Regions from separate parts of the Homo sapiens genome. Here all the other regions are linked to region 3. Evidence: fine-mapped expression QTL. Tissue or cell type: aorta. Region 3 holds a variant in brackets; each other region holds the start of a gene. All regions are shown on one strand. Distances are from middle to middle.

Region 1 (7,728 bases), 270 kb after region 3:
TAACGGTGTGGAAGTGCAGTTGTTTGATCTGAATCATTGTTGAAAGGTCATGTCTAAAGTTTGAAGTTGTATTTCCAAATACATTTTTAAATGATCCTAGAAAGTTGGAGTTTATGCCAGAATTGACTTTAGTCCTTTCAAGTTTCCAAGTGCAAGTCCTTCCTACATCAGACTGCTATTGAGGGGGTCAAAATCCTTTTGGAGTCCTAGGTGTAGTACTGCCTGAAATTCTAAAATGTAAAAAAGAATAAGAAATGCTCTACTTCATCTTTGTTTTAAAGAAGAGTTTATAATTTATAATGAATAATCAGTGTGTATAATGTTCAAAATTCTCCTCATTTAAAAGAAACCACCAAACACAAATTAATCTAAGTATATGAGCAAGCTCTCATAAATGATTTCCCTAAGATATAGCTATCTCATTTTCAAAGTATGAGGAGACAGTAGGTTTAGGTATAGGAGTGAGAATTTAGCCTTTCCCTTAAAACCATAAGTAATTCACTTCTAAAGTTGGAAAACAAAAAGAGTCCATGTTATTGCTTTCTGGCTACAAAATGAATTGCAATCTGCTGGAGAGGATGTCGGGATTTTTACCTTTTCCTTCATTATCAACTATAGTCATATCAGCCTTTGCCTTTGCTAATATTTCCATTGACAATTCATGGCCCAGTTCTGCAGCCCTCATTGTGGGAGTACAGCCCATTCGGTCTTGCACATCAGGGTGAGCACCAAGGTCAAGGAGAAAGCTGACCATATCAATATCATTGGAAACTGAGGCTAAGTGCAAAGCACTAAGTCCATTAATGGGTTCTGTATAATTGATTAGTTCAGGGTATCCAAGCTTGGTCAGCTTCTCTATCTGCTTCTTGTCTTTGTTCCGCACACATTGAAGAACTTTGTAGATCTGTAAGTTCTCAAGTCTCTTATCTGCTAAAGCCATGCTTGACCAGCTCCTTGAAAATGCTTTCTGGACCAAAACTAAAGCTGAAGCAACAAAAAAGAAAAATAACTCAAAGTTAATTTTATCATCTTCATTTTGATTAAATAACAATATTTTGGAACTTCCTTAAGAACAGAGATTGTTTTTTAAGAAATGTTCAGAAAGTAGGATTTATACATAAATATCAAAAATATTGAGTGGGCATAAAGTTAAAACAGTTCAAACAAATCTTCCATCATAATTAAAAATAGTTTGCCAGGTGGTTTTCTTATTATCCATTTAACCTTCCCTCCTCATCACACTTTACCATTTTACCATGAAGAAGCTGAGGTTAACTAAATTGCCATGGTAAGGGTTTGAGTTCCCACCATCTATCTACATGGTTTCACACCAGCAAAATAGAGAGATCATGCAGGTTTTAATAGTTTTAAGGTGTTATAAAAACATATAATTTTGAGGTGTTCATTATAAACAAATCTACTGGGCTCTGTAACATATCAGAGATGTGATGAGTGATTCCTATGTCATCTTAAGTGGAAAAGATGTAGTTAAATGGCTGCAAGGAAACTGCAAATCTTCATAAACAATCTCCCTGTTAAATTGTGATGGGCATTCTAGTATGTAATTTTACCTCCTTGTACGGAAAATCTTTTGGATTGAGTAGCAGGCCATGCTAGGTATGACCAGTTGTTTCTTCATTTCTTATGAGAAAAGAACTCCATTATCACATAGGGAATCCTATCCGGGTCGTTTGGATGGGGCTGTCCCTTCTGTCCCCTGCCAGAGGAAAGCGTCTGTGGCCTAGGCTTGGCCCATTTGAGGGAACCATCCCTTTCCAGGTACACTGAAGCTCAAGCATATGTGCATAAAAGACATCAACCAATCAGCAGCCCATCATCCAGAACTATGAGGGAAGACTATTCTGCTGAAGTTGTTAAGCAGTATGGTGTGGGGCTGGGGCGCAGGTAGCTCTCTTGGGTGCCACAGAGAGAGTCCATGCTTGGAGGATGGAGAGAGACTGAGATTGATGGCATTAGTTGCAACATGGATTCCATGGTGCCAGAAGCCATCTACCACTTTGTGGGTAAATACATCTTCTCCCCCGTCACCTTATTTTGGTATAAGCTAGTTAGCTAAGTTTCCAACATTTGCAATGAAAAGATTCCATCTTACTACAAAAGTTGAAACTATGCACCATTTTTCTCCATCGCAAGCCTGCTCCCTCACCTACATTCTCTACGGCAGTGAGCTCTCTCTCCTTTAAATGTGTCTCTCTAGGCACCACAACATCTCCATCGCCTGCTTCCATCCAACACCAATGCCCCCTCCTGCTCAGGCTCCTTTGCTGACTCCCCATTTCAAGAAGCCTATGTTGGGTGCCCAGGGCTAGGTCCTCAAGACTCTTTTCTGTCCTCACACACTCCCCTGGTGTCTCGCCCTATCCCATGACCCTCGACCCTCAGCCCAACTCTCACTCTGTCACCCAGGCTGGAGTGTAGTGGCACAATCTCGGCTCACTGCAACCTCCACCTCCTGGGTTCAAGCGATTCTCCTGCCTCAGCCTCCCGAGTAGCTGGGATTACAGGTGCCCACCACCACACCTGGCTAATTTTTGTATTTTTAGTAAAGACAGGGTTTCACCATGTTGGCCAGGCTGATCTTGAACTCTTGACCTCAGGTGATCCACCCGCCTCAGCCTCCCAAAGTGTTGGGACTACAGGCGTGAGCCACCGGGCCAGGCCTCCTTTGCCTTTTAATCTGTTTATAACATGCGGTGGACTAGGGAACCAACTGAGGCTGCCTCAGAGTCATCCACTTGGACTTTGCTGCACGGCTTGGTGACACTCACCTTAGCTGCTATTTATGGCTTGTTTTATTATTATCGGCCATATTCCGATTAGGTGCGGTGTCATCATACTGCATATGTATATGTGTCATCTATGGAATAGGGCAAGATGCTCCTACATAGGTAATGATTAGACTGAATCAATGCCACTTGATTTGTGAAAATAAGGATTTCCCAATCAGGGACTTCAATGTTGCCTCTGTTAGCACCCATCTCTAACGGAGAATTAATTAGCAGCTACAGTGATGAATTCAGTAGGTCCATGGGTCGGTTTCCTGTGGACTGCCTCCCTCCCAGCTAAAGCCCTGAAGTGCTGGGGAGAGGGCAGCACCCTGTATAGTGTCCTTCACAATCAACTGCTAAGACTGACCAAGAGCTCACCCCACTGCAGGAAATCACACAAGTGTAGCCCTTGGGTCCTGGGTTCCTTGTAAATTGAGCAGCATATAGGATCCTCCACATACAAGCACACCTGTACTTTTCCCCAGCATGACCCTGGGCCACCTTAGTCACATCTAACCATCTACCAAGGTAGTGGAATAGAGCAGAATGTCTTGACTTGAGGTCCATGTTCGGGGTCTGAATACTCGGAAATTACATGAAAATCTGTGGGAATCTGTGTGTGTTCAGGTCATTTAACTCTCAAAGGGGGGCTGTGCGACAAGGAAGGATCATTAGAAAGAGGAATGGAGGAAGACAAGCTTGGTACAGTGGAATGTAGGGTTTGAGGTGGGGAAATCCGTTGTGATCCTCCCTTCCCTGTATCATTATTTACACAAACTAGTTGGATATAAATATGGATATGCTACCTACCTAGTTTTTACCTCAGTTTCTGCATCTGTGAACTGGCAATAGCAATGGTGCCCACTTCATGGGACTGTGTGAAAAGGAAATGAGATATGATCCTTGTAAAACATTTAGCAAAGTCCTTCAATATAGGCTCCTTATGAATACACCAAACTTTTGCGGGTTTCAGCTCACCCACAAGTGTAAGCGATAGTTTACATGTTGGGGGTTCTCTACTGTGCTTTCCACTTTTTAGTCTCCAGAAAAATCTGGAGAAGAGAGGAGTGGAGGGGGTAGAGATGTAACGTCAAAGGAAAAGCCATGTGTCATGCTCACCTCTTAGTCTTCCGGGCGATCAGAAGCCAGGGATCTCTGGGCACCTATGTGCCTGGGCCTGCTGGGGCGACCGGGGAGGCCCCTGCTCTCGTCCTCTGACGCTCAGCGCTGGCCCAGCCGCGACCTTGGGCTCCCGGAGCCCGGCGGAGGCGCCCAGGCGTGAATGATGTCCCTTGGGTAGGGCTGGTGAGCTGGCGCGCGGGACAGCAGGGCTGGGTGTATGTGTCCATGGGCCCCGGGTCCCCGGAAGGCGAGCGCGCGGGCAGGTGAGCGCAGGGGGCGGGGTGGAAGCCGGAGGGACCGGGCTGATTGTGAGCTTCCGCCACGCAGGGCGCGGCTGCCGGGGCAACCGCAGCGTGCGCGGTGGGGCGGTGCTCGCCTCCGCCTCCGCCTCCGCCTCCGCCTCCGCCTCCGCCTCCGCCTCCGCCTCCGCCCCCGCCCCCGCCTCCGCCTCCGCCCCTCGCGCCTGGCTTCGACGCCAGGTGGCCGGCCTGGGCGGGATGGGGTAGCTGCGCTGGGTGTTCCAGGGCGGAGCGCAGAATGCTGCTGTCTTGAGGATTCCGCCCTTCTCTCATTCTCTTCTCCCACCTCCTGCCCTGGGTCAGAACGTAATTTAGTTATAAAATTAAAGCTGCATATGGCAATTAAAAAATGAAGTAAAATATACAATAAATATTTAGTTTACAAAGTACAATTAAATGAAAAATACAATAAATTACACAATAAAGCGAAAGTGAACCTACTCTCAACTGCCACAGATTCTTGCAAATCTTCCCAGAAATTTTCTTTCCATACTCTAGGATGCATATATGCTTAAAAAATATTTATACACAAATGGAAGCAAATATGGAGATCACTTTATTTCAGGGCCTACAAATGCACCATAACACCCCTCTCTCTCCCTCCACACATGCTTTTTGGCGGAAAATTCTGAAAGCTTTGGTTTGATTATGTGAATGTAAAACATATATATGTGTGTCTATATATATATGCTTTTTAATGCAGTATGTAATTGCTTCCAATTAAAAACAGTAATTCCTTACACCAGCCTACCCTATTCTACTCAGAGACTGTTTAAAAATGTTAAGAGCGAAGACATGGAATCAACCTAAGTGCTCATCAATGATAGACTGGCTAAAGATAATGCGGTACATATACACCATGGAATACTATGCAACCATATAAAGGAACAAAATTATGTCTTTTGCAGGAATATGGAGCTGGAGGCAATTATCCTTGGCAAGCTAACGCAGAAACAGAAAACCCAATACTGCATGTTCTCACTTATGAGTGAGAGCTAAGTGATGAGAACACATGGACACATAGAGGGGAACAGCACACACTGGGGCCTATTGGAGGGTAGAAGGTGGAGAGTGGGAGGAGGGAGAGGATCAAGAGAAATAACTAATGGGTACTAATCTTAATACCTGGGTGAGAAAATAATTTGTGCAACAAAACCACATGACACAAGTTTACCTATATAACAAATCTGCACATGTACCCCTGAACTTAAACGTCAAATAAAAAATAATAAAAATGTTATTAAGGACTATTTCATGCACACCAAAATATACTGTATGATATATGGAAAGTACATACCATACCATACCATAGCTAAAGAAATACCATAGCTAAAGAAAAAGAAAGCTAGGAAAAATAAAGGAAAAAGGAAAAGGAAAAAAAAGTCTGCCTCTACTGCTGTACTTATATGTATTTCTTCCCAACACTGCATCCTCCTCTTCCTGTTCCCAGAGATAATACCTGTTCTGAATTTTACATTTATCATCCCAGCCTCTTAAAAATGCATTGCTACATTGAATGCCTCCCTAAATAATGCATGTTTAATATTGCATATTTTGAGAATTTATAAAAATGTGGTAGAATGTTGTGTATTGTTTTGATGACTTTTTTCCTTTCAACGTCTTGTTTTTGAAATGTATCTTTGTTGGTATGTTTAATTGGAGTTCCTTTATCTAAACAGCTGTAGGCTATTCCATTATATTACCATTCCACACCCCTTTCAAATCAATTCCACTATTGATAGACATTTGGGATGTTTCCAGAATTTGCTACTAAAAGCAATACTACTAAGATCATGTTTATAAATGTCTTTGGACGCACACGTTCAAGAGTTTCACTAGAGTATATGTCTAGGAGTTAAATTTCTGGGTCATAGGTTATTTATAACATCAAGATAAAGACAACTTGTTTTCCCGACATATACAGCAATTTAGACTCCCATCAGCAGTGTGTATCTTAGCCAAAACTTGGTTTTGTCACACAAAAAACTTTCTGCCAATCTTGGTATCAATGCTCTTTTATAATTTACTTTACGTGACCTGATTACTAATTATTAATCTGTAAGTTTGATTCCTTAGAGATATTTGAGTGTAAATTTATTGTCAAACTGTGTCCAAAATTGGTGGGTTCTTGGTCTCACTGACTTCAAGAATGAAGCCAGGGACCCTCGCGGTGAGTGTTACAGCTCTTAATGTGGCGCATCTGGAGTTTGTTCCTTCTGATGTTCGGATGTGTTCGGAGTTTCTTCCTTCTGGTGGGTTCGTGGTCTCGCTGGCTCAGGAGTGAAGCTGCAGACCTTCACGGTGAGTGTTACAGCTCTTAAGGCGGCGCTTCTGGAGTTGTTGGTTCCTCCTGGTGGGCTCGTGGTCTCGCTGGCTTCAGGAGTGAAGCTGCAGACCTTCGCAGTGAGTGTTACAGCTCATAAAAGCAGTGTGGACCCCAAGAGTGAGCAGCAGCAAGATTTATTGCAAACAGTGAAAGAACAAACCTTCCACAGTGTGGAAGGGAACCCAAGCGGGTTGCCACTGCTGGCTCAGGCAGCCTGCTTTTATGCTCTTATCTGGCCCCACCCACATCCTGCTGATTGGTAGAGCCGAGTCCTCTGTTTTGACAGGGCGCTGATTGGTGCGTTTACAATCCCTGAGCTACACCCAAAGGTTCTCCATGTCCCCACCAGATTAGCTGGCTACAGAGTGTGGACACAAAGGTTCTCCAAAGCCCCACCAGAGTAGCTAGATACAGAGTGTGGCTTGGTGCGTTCACAAACACTAAGCTAGACACAGGGTGCTGATTGGTGTGTTTACAAACCTTGAGCTAGATACGGAGTGCCGATTGGTGTATTTACAATCCCTGAGCTAGACATAAAGGTTCTCCACGTCCCCACCAGACTCAGGAGCCCAGCTGGCTTCCCCCAGTGAATCCCGCACGAGAGCTGCAGGTGGAGCTGCCTGCCAGTCCCGCGCCGTGCGCCCGCACTCCTCAGCTCTTGGGTGGTCGATGGGACTGGGCGCCGTGGAGCAGGGGGTGGTGCTCATCGGGGAGGCTCGGGCGCACGGGAGCCCATGGAGGGGGTGGGAGCTCAGGCATGGCGGGCTGCAGGTCCCGAGCACCCCCCGCGCGAAGGCAGCTAAGGCCCGGTGAGAAATTGAGCGCAGCGCCTGTGAGCTGGCACTGCTGGGGGACGGAGTACACCCTCCGCAGCTGCTGGCCCGGGTGCTAAGCCTCTCATTGCCTGGGGCTGGAAGGGCTGGCCGGCTGCTCCGAGTGCGGGGCCCGCCAAGCCCACGCCCACCCAGAACTCCAGCTGGCCCGCAAACGCCGTGCGCAGCCCCGGTTGCCGCTCGCGCCTCTCCCTCCACACCTCCCTGCAAGCTGAGGGAGCCGGCTCCGGCCTTGGCCAGCCCAGAAAGGGGCTCCCACAGTGCAGTGGTGGGCTGAAGGGCTCCTCAAGTGCCGCCAAAGTGGGAGCCCAGGCAGAGGAGGCGCCTGGAGCCAGCGAGGGCTGTGAGGACTGCCAGCA
Region 2 (7,728 bases), 130 kb before region 3:
GCATTTTTCTTGTATGAATTTATCTAACGTTCACATCAACCCTATCTTACAGATGAGGAAACTGAGGTAGTGAAGGGATAAGTTATCTGATCAAGGTCACAAAGCTGATTAGTAGAGGAGCTAGAATTTGAACCCAGGGAGTCTAGCTCTAGAGTTAATTTCCTAACCCATCATGTTCTACTGCCACACACAATATGAGGTATGTTAATACTAGAAGCAATGAATATTGTACTTGTAAAATACTTTTCTTTCTCACACTCACAGAATATAAACATTCACTACAATTGGCAACACCACATGAAACTAAATAAAAAACAACAGTGGCTTTATTTTCTTTTCCCAATTAATAGATGGAGGGAGGAGAAGCAGAAAGGCTGGACAACTTTCTTAGGACACAGAGCAAATAATTGGCAAGTTGACCAGTTACTGGGAAGCTGGTTCCTTACATTCTTAATCCAGATCTTTTCATGGTTTTCAAAATCCCGATTATTTTAAGTAACACCATAAGGGAGAGAAAATCTAACATAGCAACATAAAACGTAAAAGTTGTTTCTGTTTTCTCATACTCCTTACTGGCTCTTTAATTTCATCCAGAGGGTCTCAATCTCTGCAGATACAGGGCTGGAGTCTGTTTTTAAAGCTCCCAGGTGATTGTTACGTGCAGCCAAGGCTGAGAACTCTTGATTTAGTCTTCTCATTAAAGAAAGACAGAAGGCAGCTGGGTGCAGTCGCTCATGCCTGCTTTCCTGCACTTTGACAGACCAAGGCAGAAGGATCGCTTGAGCCCAAGAGTTGGAGGTTACAGTGAGCTATGATCCCACCACTGCACTTCAGCCTGGGCAACAGGGTTATACCCTGTCTCAAAAAATAAAAATAAAAGAAGTAAAATAAAATGGGAAGACAGAAGAAAGCAAGGTGCCACAAAAAGCTTTGGTAAACCAAGGCCCAAGGTTTTCCAAGTCAGTATTGAACTGCTGTCCACATGCAAACTTTTGAGTTCAACTTTTAACAAATTAAAAGTACAAATATGCATACAAGATATGAGAAAGCAAGAAGCACAGTAAACAACTTTTAAAAAAAAAACGCAAACCAGTGGTAAATTGGATGCTAAGACTTACAGAGAAAACCCTACATTTCAGATGTTATAACAGAAATTACATATAAGTATATTGGGATGACAAAATCTCTTTTCAACTTTTTGGAAAGCTAAATTGACGCCCTAACATCAAGTCAATGAACTAAAAGCACAGAAAAAAACCTGTCAAATATCCATTGCATTTAGAACATGCAATAAATTGATAATACACTGTGAATCTAGTTAAGAAGCACGGGTTGAACAAAGAATGGGCCAGGCCGGGCGTGATGTCTCAGGCCTGTGATCCCAGGACTTTGGAGGCCAAGGCGGGTGGATCACCTGAGGTCAGGAGTTCGAGAACAACCCGGCCAACATGGCGAACCCTGTCTCTACTAAAAATACAAAAATTAGCCGGGGGTGGTGGCGCGCGCCTGTAATCCCAGCTACTGGGAACGCTGAGGCAGGAGAATTGCTTGAACCCGGGGGGCGGAGATGGCAGTGAGCCAAGATCGCGCCACTGCACTCCAACCTGGGCAACAGAGCGAGACTCCATCTAAAAAAAAAAAGAAAGAAAGAAAGGGCTGTATCTTTAGCCCATGCCCTGAATCAATGTTCCTTGAACTTTAAGGTACACTTCTTGAGGAAGATTCTGATTCAGCAGCTCTGGGGTGAGAGTCATGAAGTGTAATTCTAACAAGCTCCCAGGGATGCTGATGCTGGTGGTAGGTGAAATGAACTTGGAGCAACAAGGCCCTAAGTAACTGGAATATTAGTTTTAACGCTAGCCAACTGGCTTACAAATATCGTTATGTCTAGGATCCAAGAAGTAAGTGTCAATACCATTAATTCCTACACCCGGCCAAAAAAATTAAAAACTAAAAATAAAAAAAAATAGTTCAGGGGAAGGAGAAAGCAAATACTTGTTTATACAGTCTAGCAGTGCTAAGAACCATAAAATACTGTTATTTGTCTCAACCTAGTAGATGTCAAGGTGATAAAATGTAGGCTCCATGAGTTAATGGATTTTTTTTAGCTAACTCCTGAATCCTTATGGCCTAGCACAAATTAGGTACTCAAGAAATGCAATGAATAAATGAATGAATGGGAAGTATATACAAACGCAATCTGTATTTACCTCACATCTCCAAAAATGTCTGGGAAGGGGGAGGTATTTGTACTGCTGGATGCAGGTAGCCATGATTTGATACAAATACCTGGCCCATCTACTGCATTCCCTTTGTGCAAAGACAGTTAACTTTCCTGAATAATATCTCCACCGTAATGCCCATGCTCATGGCATCCTGATGTTTAGCAACTTTTTGGCTTTTTGAAAACAATGAAGAAAGGTGGAAGTACAGGGAGAAGGATTCGGAAAAGTCTCAAAAAATCAAAGCCAAAAACCAGGAGGGAGGAGATGGGCAAACAGTTCAGTTCACTTGAAGGAACATCTGAGGTTGTCAGAGGTCCATGTGCTTACCTATGATGGTGGCGGGGTTTGGGCTCGGGCTTTATATGTTTTGTTACTGTCCAGGGTCACTGGCGGAGTAGTACCTGGCTGTGGAAACTCGGACTACACAGGTAGCCGGAACTGCAGCCAACCTTCAGAAGCTTAAGGGAAGCACTTTCGCGCTTACTTCCTCCTTCCCAGGGTCTCCGCGCGCGTTTGGGAACTCAGCCGCCGCCCAAACACAAAATGATCTGGGCAGCTTCGCTGCAGGATTGAGGCCACAGCCAGGATTTAAGATGGCAGCGAAACACTTCGATGGCCCGTGGAATCTGCCCAAAAGAAAAATGGCCTCTGTTCAGAATATCGCGGCTTTCAAAGTGGGCCCAAAACAAAAATGGCGCCGGACGCAGGCTATTTTTAAAGGCTGGGACCCCAATGACTCTCATTAGCAAATAACGTATCATGGTAACTCACGGTGCTAGGCAGTTGAACTGACCGAGAGAAAAAAAAACGCTTTTCTGTGGTGTGTTTTCTTAACATTGGAAAATGACTAGCTCAAGAATGGAACATATATTCGGTGCGAAAGATTGTGAGAAAGGAAAGGTAGCTTTCACAGTGCCGGATAAATTTTAATAAAAATAGCCATGTTTGAACATAACTTCCTATATGTTTTTTAATGTTAAAAGAGAATAAAAGTTTTGTCCTGGAACCCAGAAGCAGGATGGGGAAATGCCGGGTGAATTATCTAATCTGTGAAGAGTACGAGCTGCGAAACTCCGCACTTCCCTGTAAGCCCTCAGGAAGGACTGAGGGCGGATGCTTTAGTAGAAGGCAACTAGCTCTCACGGCGCATGTCCGTTTTCCAAACCCGATCCCGGGAGTTACGGGAGAGTAAAAATCCTGATTTTCCAGACAACCGCACAGAGAGGCGGGATACTGGCGCTGAGCGACAAATCCAAGCGCTTTGTAATTGGTCATGTCAGGACAGAGAGCAGAGCGCAGTGGACTATTTCTTTCTTTCATTCAATAAATCATTGTCAAGCGCTCACCAAAAGGCAGAAGCTGTGCCATTTTGATATGTTATTTAAATTTTATGCGTTCTTTTAAAATTTCAGTTTCAACAATTTGCTGGAATATACGCTGAATAAACTTCGCTCCCCGTTTTTTCCGGTGACGGCCGCTGTTGGCTGGAGCTTCACGGAAAACCCGGAGAAGCGGAGTGGGGGCGGCCCGGCGTCGACCGCAGAGCTGCGCGTGCTCCGTGCCCTCGCGCGACGCGAAGGTTGTCGGGATCCGCGGCAGCAGCGGCTGCTTGAGATCTGTTTCTGGGGCCTCTGGCGGTGGCGGCCTGGGGCGGCGCGACGGCTGGTGCGCAGGTGAGAGCGCTGGGACTCTAGGTGGAAAAGCCCGCTTTGTGTCCGGCCGAAGAGAGGGGAAGGGGCTTGTAGGCGCCTCCCTCTCCACCCCCAAAGGTCACCGGTGTCCTCACTGAAGGATATTTGAGGGCGGGGACAAGGAGGAGGCTGGCTCTCTGTAGGAGGCGAAAGACCGACCTCTGAAATAGCTGCCGATGGTAAATGTTGCGGTCGGCACGGATGCGGGCGGCGAGGAGGTCTTCCCGCCGGTGGGGAGAGCTGGAGGAGTGGCGCCTCACCACGCTCCCACCTGCGCTGCCGCCTTCTACGCCGAACCTGTGACTCCCCGTCCCCTCCCTCGCTGGGAGGGGCCCCGTGTGCCCCTGACTGTCTGGAGGGTGCACGGTGTACCCCAGGCTGTCGGGAGGTGGGGGCCGCCCTCCGACGGCGTTAGAGACGTTGTGCAGCGTGGCCCTGCCAGCTACGTGAAAGCAGCCGCGGGGCTTGCAGGGCTGTGGACCTTGTAGGGATGACCCTCTAAGGTCATGCTCGTCTTCCTCCCCGATAAGACCATACCCAAATCCTGTTGCCGTTTCAGAGACTCAATATGACGGTTTCATTCATTCATTAACATCTTCAGTTTATCCATAAACAGATATACACGTGTCTACAGCACTGCCGAGTTAGTAGATACGGCAGTGACCAAGAGGGACTTGCACGGTCCTGACTCCATGTTCTAGTGATGGGGGAGAAACAATACGCTCCCTATCCATGAGTTCCGCATGTGTGAATTCAACCAACTGCGGATAGAAAATATTTTGGGGCGGCGGGGTTTGGTGGCTCACCCCTGTAACCCCGCACTTTAGGAGCCCGAGGCGGGCGGATCACTTGAGTCAGGAGTTTGGGGCCAGCCAGGCCAACGTGGCGAAACCCGGTCTCTGCTAAAAGTACAAAAAAATGAGCCGGGCGCAGTGGCGCACGCCTGTAATCCCAGCTACTTGGGAGGTTGAGGCAGGAGAATCGCTTGAGCCCTGGAGGCGGAGGTTGCGGTGAGCGGAGATCACGCCACTGCACTCCAGGTTGGGCGACAGAGACTCTATTTAAGAAAATAAATAAATAAAAACATTCTGGGGGAAAAAAGATGGTTACATCTGTACTGAACACGTGCAGACCTTTTTTCTTGTCATTCCCTAAACACTGCAGTGTAACAACTACTTACATAGCATTTAACGTTGTATTAGGTATTATAAGTAGCCTAGAGATTATTTAAGGTACATGGAAGGAGGTGGCAAGTTGTGTACAAAACTACACGATTTTTTTTTTTTTTTTTTTTTTTTTTGACAAAGAGTCTCGCTCTGTCGCGCAGGCTGAAGCTGGATCTCTGCTCACTGTGCAACCTCCGCCTCCCGGGTTCAAGCAATTCTCCCTGCCTTAGCCTCCGGAGAAGTTTGGGATTACAGGCACCCGCCACTGCACCTGGCTAATTTTTGTATTTTTTAGTAGAGATGGTGTTTCGCCATGTTGGCCAGGCTGGTCTTGAACTCCTGACCTCAGGTGATCCACCCGCCTCGGCATCCCAAAGTGCTGGGATTACAGGCATGACCCACGGCGTCTGGCCTACTACACAATTTTTAAATCAGGGACCTGAGCATCTGGATTTGGGTATCCATCATGGGTCCTGGATGCAATCCCCCAAATACTGAGGGGTGATTGCACATTGATATTGAGCAAGATGTTTCTAGATTGTCCTAGGTTGGGTTTCCTGAGAATCAGACTCTGAGGAGATTTAGAGGCAGGACATTTACTAGAGAAGACTTTTTGGATGATTACCAAGGAAGAAAGGAAGCAGGATTGGGCAATAGAAAAAGTTAAGCTGCAGTGAAGTCTCAAGGATGTTCTCCACCAGTCCCACAGGAACTCTAGTGCTGGGTTGGCCCTTCAAAGTTGAAGAGAAGGGCCAGGCTTTTATACCCCTTGATTGATCTGTCGTTAGATGTCTGTTTCCCTGGAAAGGGCCTAACTTCAACTCTCTTCAGCCAAGTCAATCATGGACGGAGGCTGGCAGCCGAGGTCTGTCTCAGCTCTTCCAGGAGCTGGGGAAATAAGCCTTTCATTCCTTAGGGGGGTCAGGGTGGCACATCACAGCATTCATCACAAAGGTAGGGCTTTGAAGGAATCACGTGCTAGAGAATAATGGGGAGGGAGAGGGAAAACACTTTAGGTTGAGTGCTGAGAGAAAGGCTCTCTGAGTAGGTGACATCTGAACTAAGAGCTGAAGCAGAAGAATAAGCCATCCTCTGTGGACCAAAGGGGACAAGATTCTCTACTTTTCTGCTACGCACTAGGAATATAGCAGAGAAGACAAGTGGCTGCTACCTTCTGTTATCGTGGGTGGCAGTGACTAGTTTTTCTAGATCTTGACTCCCTGCCGTAACTAAAGATGGAGTAAGTAAAAATGGATTGAGACTAATTCAGAGGAGGATAGAGGAAAAAATGAGAACTATGATTTTGAAAAATGAGTCAACTTGGTAAAGACTTTATGCAGTTTTTTGTGCGGGTTTGGTTTGGTTTGGTTTGGTTTGGTTTGGTTTGGTTTGGTTTTTTGACCCTATACAGCATTGAGTTATGTTTTATTAAGATTGTCCCATTATCTTCTCAAACCTGTATTCTCCTTGAGGACAAGAATCATGCCTTACTCTTCTTGGTAGTTCCCCCCTGAGGCTAGTAGTCTTGCTAGCACCTAATAGACACTAAGTGAGCATTTGGATAGAATTAATCTTGTACATATTTGAAGTGAAAATTGCTAATCCCTAAATATTGTGAATGTGGGATACATGACTGTGTTTGGATTTGTCTTTACAGTATTTCCTCACCTTATAAGTTGGAACCCAATTTTAGTCAAAATATTCGATGATAATATATAATTGCTTTGATCAAGCAGGAACCTCCAGGGGTGCCTATTTTTATATATGATTCGTATAAGATAATATACTCCCAATAAAAGTAATGGCTGCCGTGTATTGAGCACTTCCCACATGCTAGGCACTGTACTAAGCTATGAATGTATATAGTTCTCTTCATAATGTGGCCCCCTATTTCAGATCATGACATTGAGGCAGGAGAGAAGTAATTTGTCCAAGACCATAACTAATTTGTGGTGGAGGTTAGACTTTGATTCTCGCCATTACTCAATGCTTTTGCTCTTATGTAAAACGTTGTTTCAGACCAACAGCGTGTCTGAAAATGTCGACCAAGTTTCAGTCATTGTAGGATTCTCACATTTGATCACTTGGCTGCTCTATTAACTGTTATTAGAGAAACATACATGAAATTTTTCACCGTCTTTGCTTCTTTGCTCTGTATCAGTTTTCTGACTTCCTTCACAGCTTTCCTGGCTCTCACTTTAGAAGCTTGACAGTTATCTGTCCTATAATATCCTAGAATCTAATTACCAGATTCACTACCCTAGTCAAACCCCAAAGACCTCTGAACCTCTCTGTTGAGACTGGGTATTTTTATTCTTAGCTAACTAACTGAAACTGCCCAGAGAAGTGGGCCTTCCTTTATGGGGACCACTTCCCTTAGTTTGGGCATTAATTCTAATCCTCTCCAGTTCTTGCTATACTACAGGTTAATTCCAGTAATGTTTTTTTTCTTTTTGACATAATCAAAATAATAATAGCTAACAATTACTGAGCCCAGACAAAGTGCCAAGTATTGTGATAACTGCACAGCAAGCTTATGATATGGATGTTATTATTCACATTGTACACACAATGGAACTGAAGCACAATGAGATTAAGTGACTAATCCAAGGCCACACAGCCAGTTGTAAAGTGGTAAGTGAAGAT
Region 3 (7,728 bases):
AACTCCTGGGCTCAAGCAGTCCTCCCTCCTCAGCCTCCCAAAATGCTGAGATTACAGGCATGTGCCATTGTACCTGGCCAGGATTTTTTTTCAATAAATACACTGGAAAATGCTTTGGAGATTTGCAACAATTAAGACAAACTTGCAGATGAATGTGTTACTTAGAAATATTGAGAAAATTTAGAAAAAATTAGGCATGTCATGAATGGATAAAATATATGTAGATACTAGTCTAGTCTATTATTTACTATCATAAAATACATATAAATCTACTATGAAAAGTTAAAATTGATGAGACTTAAACAAATATAGACCATACATGGGCCTATTTGCAGTTGAGAGAAATGTAAAGGTGAAGTATTAAATCATAATTGTATAAAATTAACTGTAGTCCATACTGTACTACTCTAATAATTTCATAGCCACCTCCTATTATTGTGGTGAACTCAAGTGTTGTGAGCATCCGTTTAAAATGCTCTGTGATACTAATCATCCTCACCATCTCTCCAGTAAATTGCATAGTGCAGTAAAAAGTGATCTCTTGCAGTTTCACATTTAAAAAAAATCATGTTTAGTGCAATACTGTAAACCTTGAATAACATCATGCACCCATACAAAGTGCCACCAGTGATGCTAGCAGTGCTCCCAAAAAGCAAAAAAAAGTCACGACATTTCAAGAAAAAGTTGAATTGCTTAATGTGTACTGAAGATTTCAGACTGATGATTCATCTTGTAAACAAATGATATAAACTGATGGTATCAATAAATACAGCATAGTATTATAAATGTATTTTATCTTCCTTATGATTTTCTTAATAACATTTTCTTTTCTCCAGCTTACTTTATCATACGAATACAGTAAATAATACATAAAACATAGATGTTAATGGACTTTTTATGTCATTAAGGCTTCCAGTCAACAGTAGGCTACTAGTAGTTAAATTTTGGGGGAGTCAAAAAATTTTCAGCTGCATGGGGGTTGACACCCTAAATCTCCATGTTGTTCAAGGGTCAACTGTACTTTGTTCCACTCATTAAACTTTGACAACATCAAGATTAACAATATCAACTATAAAGTGTGTACTATTATTAGCTCACTTTTCCAAATGAGAAAAGCAGTCAGAAACGATCTGGGGAATTTGTCTGAAGTCTTAGTACTAATAAATGGAGAAACCAGAGTCTGAATGCTAGCAACCTGGAGTCAGAGTCCACACTATTCATCACTTACTATTCAATTTGCTGAGATCAAATGAGTTTATACACATAATGTGCTTGGAATAATGTTTTGCAAAACGAAGGGCTCATTAGTTTATCTTGCAATTATTGTTACCGTATGAGAACTTGGCTTGCTTCTGGGATGCTTAATAGTTTTTAAGTTGCATTTCTGAAGATTCATTTCTATGAGTTTAATAACTGTCTTTTCTTTAACAGATGCACATTTACTATGATTTTGTAACTGGCTGGCTTTAATCTCTTGGTTGATCTCTTTACTGCTTGGGTTATGTTTGCTGTATATGCAGCATGAAACCTAGGGCTGCTACCAGCATAAATCTTTAAATTCCAGAAAATGAATGATTCCCATCACCACTGAGAAAAATGCATCAGCAACCAGAGGTGAAGACAACGATTCTATGGAGGCTTTTCTTTTGTCCTTCCCTGACTGGTAATGCTGTCTATCCTTCTACAGCCTGGGAAGAAGAGGAGGAGGCTGCCAGGCAGTGTGGGGAAACCAAACTGTTTTTCTCTCAACCAGTATCACTCAATGATTACCAGCTTTGTACCTATTGTGGTGCTGTACTTCCCAATTTTTATTGAGCTGAGTCTTCTGTATTCAGTTCATATCGTGAATTCTCAGGACATTAGAATTATCCATGTTCAAATAGAAATTTGCAAAGTTAAAACAAACATATTTCCAGATTAATCATAACTTTGAATACCTGGCAATGGTTCTCTGTCATCTGTTTGGATAATTGACACTTGTCTTTTAAAATCAGTATTTACATAGTAAGATAGGGCATTGATTTTGATTGTTTTGAACTACAGACTCACATTTTTGACCTCAGGTTTCTCAATTGGAAAATGGATAATCTCACCAATTTTACTTGGTTCTTAAGCCCTCCCTTTCCAGCTACAAATGGTATCAGAAATAATGACACTTCAGTGCAAAGGAAAGTTACAGGATCAGAGCAATGTGAAATGTTCCTGTAGATTGAATTATTATGTTGCCAGACTAAATGCTCTGAAAAGCTCAAATGAGAAAAATAATTCATTTTAAAATGATGGCATTCCTGAGCGCAAACATTCTAGGATCTCCTGTACAAGAATGCACTGAGGGGCCTTCACCTGGGGATATTTGAAGTAGAGCATGAGGTTACTCTGTATATCCTTAAAGGATCTGGGAGGAGCTGAAACAGACTTATGTTCAATGAGCATCTGTGATTTCCACCTAACTTACTTCTGAAGCATATGAAAATTCCACCCCATGCAATATTTGACACAGAAAGTACTGCCCCTTTATTATATAAAAGAATTAGCTTCTTTTAAAAAAAAAAAAAAGTCTGGAATCTCCTTGTAGATGTCTTCCTGGTATTTGGAGAATGCCCCTATGATCACCCTACTTATATGCTGTAGGACTTTATTTATGATGGCTGTCCCATTCCAATTTTTATATTTCTATTTAGAAAATTCTAAATTTGCTGGAGTGCCCAACATATGTTACATGTTTGTCCTTGTGAGAAGGCCAGGATGACCACCAAAGAGCCAGTAAAAGTTTAGAAGGAGCTGTTCAGCCCATCTTCTGAACGCTCCGGGAATCTCTTCAACTTCAGACCATGCCAGGTGACTTTTAGAACCCAGTTCATACTTCCAGCCTGTTCTGATCCTAGGTTTGAACAGTTCTCTTACTATCCTTCAGGTGAGGCAATCAGGTCACAGAGCTGGTGAATGGCAAAACCCTGTTAGAACTCAAAGTCTTAGCTCTCAAATGCTGTGTTTTCTCACTGATAGAAGAATGTGAGGACTGCTAAAGAATCAGCCTCACTGTATTCCAACGTGTGCCTGTCATCTACCACTGACAACTTTATTTTTATTTATATATTTACTTATTAGAGATGGGATCTTGCTCTGTTGCCCAGGCTGGAGTGCGAGTGCAGTGGCACGATCATAGCTCACTGCAGCCTGGAACTCCTGGGCTCAAGGAATTCTCCTGCCTCAGCCTCTGGAGTAGCTGGGACTGCATGCCTAACTTACCACTGATAACTTTAAATCAAAGTTTGAACATTGCTAAGGTATTTCCTTAGCAACAGTTCCCATAAACCCTCTGATATAGGCTTGCTTCCAATTCAGTAAGTTTTCTGAAAAAATTATGTTTTTAACCTTAGAAGGTATATCTATATATGGTTATTTTTATATATGGTTTTTATATATATATAATAACCATATACATATAATATATATATTATATATTATATAATATATATAGTTATTTATTTATATATATAAGGTTATTATTTATATACATAAATACCCTTAAGCAGAAAACGAGATTTTTAAATAAAGTAATTTCTTGACAATCCATGAGGATGTATTGAAAATCTCATTGTTAAGGACTCCCAAAACTTCACTATTGATCCAAGTGATGAGAAAAGATCATGATTGATAGAGCTGGGTAAAGGTTGCTGTTGGGGTCATGAGAGATTATGAGAGAAACATCATAAGACTCTCCTTACCCCTACAGTGTGATTGCAATTACATCTTAGATATGCAGGAAACTTCCACATACTGTCCCGTTATCAGAAATGAGAACTTCAATGAGAAGGTGGAAATCTATTAATAATTGTGCAGTTCATGCGACATGATCATTTGGGGCAATGCTGGGTTGAAGTGGGCTCTATTTAAATCATGTGTGGATTTTGATTCTGGAAAAAAAAGGGGCTATTTAAAGTGCTGACTGGAAACTAGTTATTCAAAGGCAATTAGACCCTTCTCCCACTTAAATGATTCTGCACTCAAGGAATGATACAAATTGAAATAGTCATTATCCATCCACCTGCCTGGCTTCTGATTAAACCTTGTAGCTGCATATGTCTCTGTCTTTATAGTACACTGGGCGTAGAAGAAAAACCTTCTCCCTAAAGATGAGAACTAGAAATTCAAAGTGGCAGAATCAAGATGCCACTTGCCTTTCCAGGAACACATTTTCTTGCTTAAAGTTCAACTCTGTCAATAAGAGTTTGACCCTTCTATTAGTAAAGACGCTCCTTCTGGAACCCTAATTGGCTTTGATGCATTATCTAGCTGCATCTGCAAGTAAAGTGGGTCCATTAATAGAAAATGAATACTTCCTGTTTTTTTCAAATTGTTTTTTCTGTTGGAGGGCAGCTCAGCAATGATTTTTTAGTTCATTATTCTGGGCCGTAATGGGTTAGGTCAGCTTGTGTTGGCTCTAGTGAGTTTTGAAACTCTCATTATTATTCTAATATCTATTGATTTACACAGCTTTAAAAGCTTTATCATATGAAAGCCTTCTTAACAACGATAAGCATGCCATTACTTGCAAAAGTAAGCAAAGCACAAGTATTTTGCCAACCAACACTAAAGTTTGCGTAGTTTTCATA[C/T]TGATCAGGCAAAATATGCAATCAGATATTTTTAACATGGAGTATGTACAACACAACAGGACAAAGTGTTCCCTTTATGCCTACTTACTCCTTTTTCAAGTCATTGGAGGTTGCTTGCATACCAAGAAACTACTATTTAGATTTATGATTCTAAAAATCTTAAAAGTATCCTTCTCTGCTCACCAAAATGGAATGAATTATTATAAGAAAATTTAGGATATCAGACAAAGAACTTCAACGTCTCCCAGGGAATAAACACACAACATAAGTTACCCACATTGAGTAGATTATAGATGTACAATTATCGTTAAATCTATAATGTCTCTTTTTCTCCTTTTTAGCATTTGGACATAAGAGTTTGTAATCAATATTCAAGACCCTACTGATTGAGGAAAGGGCATGAAACATGGAAATATAAATTATGTCGGAGTTCTGTGTTGTAGAATATCAGGTTTTGGTGCCCTAGGTCTCTTTATAGGAACGTTCCAGTGTTTCTTTCCAATCTCTTCTAATTTTAAGCCCCCAAACCCACCCCTTCCCAGTCTACTCCCTCCAGTCTTTCTTATGGCCCACGTTGACATGGTGGATCTTAGAGCCAAGTCTGGTGTCCTTGTGTAAACTCAATTTCATCATATAAAATTCCCTGTTTTTAGAACTGGGGATGTGAACTGTTAAACTGGAAATGGAACCTGGATATTTTTGAATTCTCATTAAAGCTTTGGCATTTATAAAAGCAAAGCTCATAATCATGTCCTGGCTATACTGACTATTCTTTCTCCCATTTTCTGATTCTATCCCTTCACCACCTCCACTTGACAAACTATTAATACTAACCATCCTTCAAGATTCAATTCAAAGTCAACTTATTCTGAGATTTTCCCGAACTTTGCCTCTTGAGATCTTTCCTTATCTAACCTTGTTTAGCATTTTATCTGTGGATCTCTTAGTGAATTATATTTTGAGTGATAGAAAATTCATCTGGAGGCTCGTAGCCTCCCATAGGCCGTGAATTTCTTGGCAGTAGGGGTGGTGTCTTTCTCATGTGTACATGGCCCACAGTGCCTAGCACAATGCCTGGCTGACAGGAGCCTTTGAGAATATTTGCTGGATTAAATTTGACCCTCTTATTTTCACTCCAATTCTGTTGCTGAGTCCTATATTTTTCTCTTGGAAAATGAAGAACATTTCCAGCTATCAGTGCGCCTGAATCCAAGGTCGTGTTTTGAGGATCTTGTTATGCCCTTCACACTTCCTGTTGGTCATTTCAGAAGTGACTCGCAGTAGGGACTTGCTGACTGCCACGTGCTCACCTTCTCCATGATCCTGTCGATCTGGCGATTCTGTGTATCGATCTCATTGCCCATATCCAGGGCCATGTGACGGAGGTTCCCGATGATGCCGCTCACCTGCTCTAGGTTTTCATCCATTTCATTTTCTCGGGCATCATTTGTTACCCTGGGATCCAAAGAGCAAGTTTTAGAAGACAGAGGGTGGAAAACATATTGAATACCAAGGACCCAAAGCATAGTGGAAATCTGTCGTCCTCTGGGCATCAACTTTATCTATCTTTAATCTCCATCCAGTACAAAAACACATTTTAGCTTTCATACATTTAAAAAAAATGTTTAAAATTGCTTTTTGAACCCTTGAATTTCTATTCTTAAAGAAGGTATATTAAATAGATTAATTTATCTACTTTCTCACTCCTTCCATTATGTTGTTTCCCCTTCATATGTTTATTTCAATTTTTATTGTTTAAGGATGAAAACATTTTCTTTGAAAGGACTTTAGGTCAGAGCACGAAGATGGAATTAGAAACGATATTCTTCTTTCTAAGAATATTCTTAATATTTCTAAGACTCAAATTAAGTCTCAAAATTTCTAAGACTCAAATTAAGAATACAATAAAAAGCTTATTGTGCTAAGTCAGAGTCTCTGTGCTCATCTCTTTTCACACTTGGGATTGACACCAATGGGAAGAGTAATGATAATTACAGTTTGCCCCTTAACCCTGCTTGCTCCCAGGAACTCCAAGGAGAGCTACTTGTTCAAGATGATTTTTATTTACTCATATGTTAATAACATGGGTTTTTTAGTGGCATGGTGCATAGGTGATTTCAGAGTCAAAAACTGTGAAACTGTGACAAAAGAGTATTGTTTCAGGTTGAGTGGAATGGGAATGGGAGGAAGGAGCTGGCTCACAAAACACATTACATTTTTTCACAGTCCAACTTGAAAGTTAAGGAGGTACTTATTTCAGAATTTCCCTAGTATATATGGTATTGAGCTAAAAAATATTCAGAAGGGTTAAAATCCTTCCCCCATGGTAACTCCCAATGCAGACTGGCTCATTATGGTTTCAAAAGCAGCCCAGGGCAGAGAAAATTAAAAAACTAAAGGAGAACTTTCTGGCTTTTTCCTGTAGGGAAGAAGTTTATTTAAATGATCATCAATAGCTAAGAGATACTTCTAGTTCAATGGTGCTTGGCCCTGAGTGCATATCAGAATCACCTGAGGAGCTTTAATGGGCCACAGGTGCTTGTGTCTCACTTCAAGAGATTCTGGTTCAATTGGTGTGGATTGGGCCCAAACACTGGTAGTAAAAGAAAAAAAAGTCTCCCCTGGTGATTCTAATGTACAGCCAGGCTTGAGAACCCTTGGGCTACTTTCCCTGGGAGCAAAGGGAGAGCTGAGTTCTGAATTGGCTGATGTGTGTAACTTGAGTTTTTTTTTTTTTTAAAGGAAATGCCCCTGAGTCATAATTTGAACTTTTAAAAATAGATATTTAAATTGGCTTTTGATTCTAGGTTTCAAAATAAATCATTAATAAGAAGCTCATTATTCTCTATTTTCACTCCAAATCCGTTCTTGGACCTTCTTTGCTCTGTGCTCTCAGGAGCTGACCTCATGACTATATCACCCAGCTCCTCTTACCCTCTGGCTTTCAGTAGGCTTTGGCTAATGGCCAATGAAACTGCAGGGCAAGAGGAGTGAGGGGCTACAGCATTTATTTCCCTCTTTCACTCCCTGTTAGCTTTGGTAGTGGCTGTATTTCTCTACTGATAGTTCCTTGCCCACAGTCGTAACTATTGCTGGGTTCTGATAATCATTC

Evidence for each region. PIP is the estimated chance that this variant, and not a neighbour inherited with it, causes the effect.
Region 1: it holds the start of ANKEF1, and the variant in region 3 is fine-mapped to the expression of ANKEF1 in aorta (GTEx, PIP above 0.99).
Region 2: MKKS starts here. The variant in region 3 is fine-mapped to the expression of MKKS in aorta (GTEx, PIP 0.99).

The regions. Positions count from the first base shown.
Region 1 is chr20:10,031,514-10,039,241 of GRCh38, reverse strand. It overlaps ANKEF1 (ankyrin repeat and EF-hand domain containing 1), which reads right to left and starts at 4,255. Exons shown (of 11, transcript NM_022096.6): 1 at 3,909-4,255; 2 at 3,600-3,663; 3 at 595-984. The coding sequence starts at 940. All of the region lies in intron 3 of SNAP25-AS1 (SNAP25 antisense RNA 1), which reads left to right. RefSeq lists a silencer at 3,915-4,464.
Region 2 is chr20:10,430,278-10,438,005 of GRCh38, reverse strand. MKKS (MKKS centrosomal shuttling protein) reads left to right here and starts at 3,784. Exons shown (of 6, transcript NM_170784.3): 1 at 3,784-3,898. It overlaps SLX4IP (SLX4 interacting protein), which reads right to left and starts at 2,701. Exons shown (of 8, transcript NM_001009608.3): 1 at 2,553-2,701. It overlaps LOC128706665, which reads left to right and starts at 3,784. Exons shown (of 3, transcript NM_001394148.2): 1 at 3,784-3,898. LOC128706666 reads left to right here and starts at 3,784. Exons shown (of 3, transcript NM_001394149.2): 1 at 3,784-3,898. RefSeq lists enhancers at 2,548-2,597, 2,758-2,987, 3,878-3,937, 5,888-6,389.
Region 3 is chr20:10,297,611-10,305,338 of GRCh38, reverse strand. It overlaps SNAP25 (synaptosome associated protein 25), which reads right to left. Exons shown (of 8, transcript NM_130811.4): 7 at 5,927-6,071. Among named protein-coding and RNA genes, the nearest start is that of SNAP25-AS1, 82 kb to the right of the region's middle. RefSeq lists an enhancer at 3,926-4,843. The variant C/T (reference allele first, on the strand shown) is at 4,617.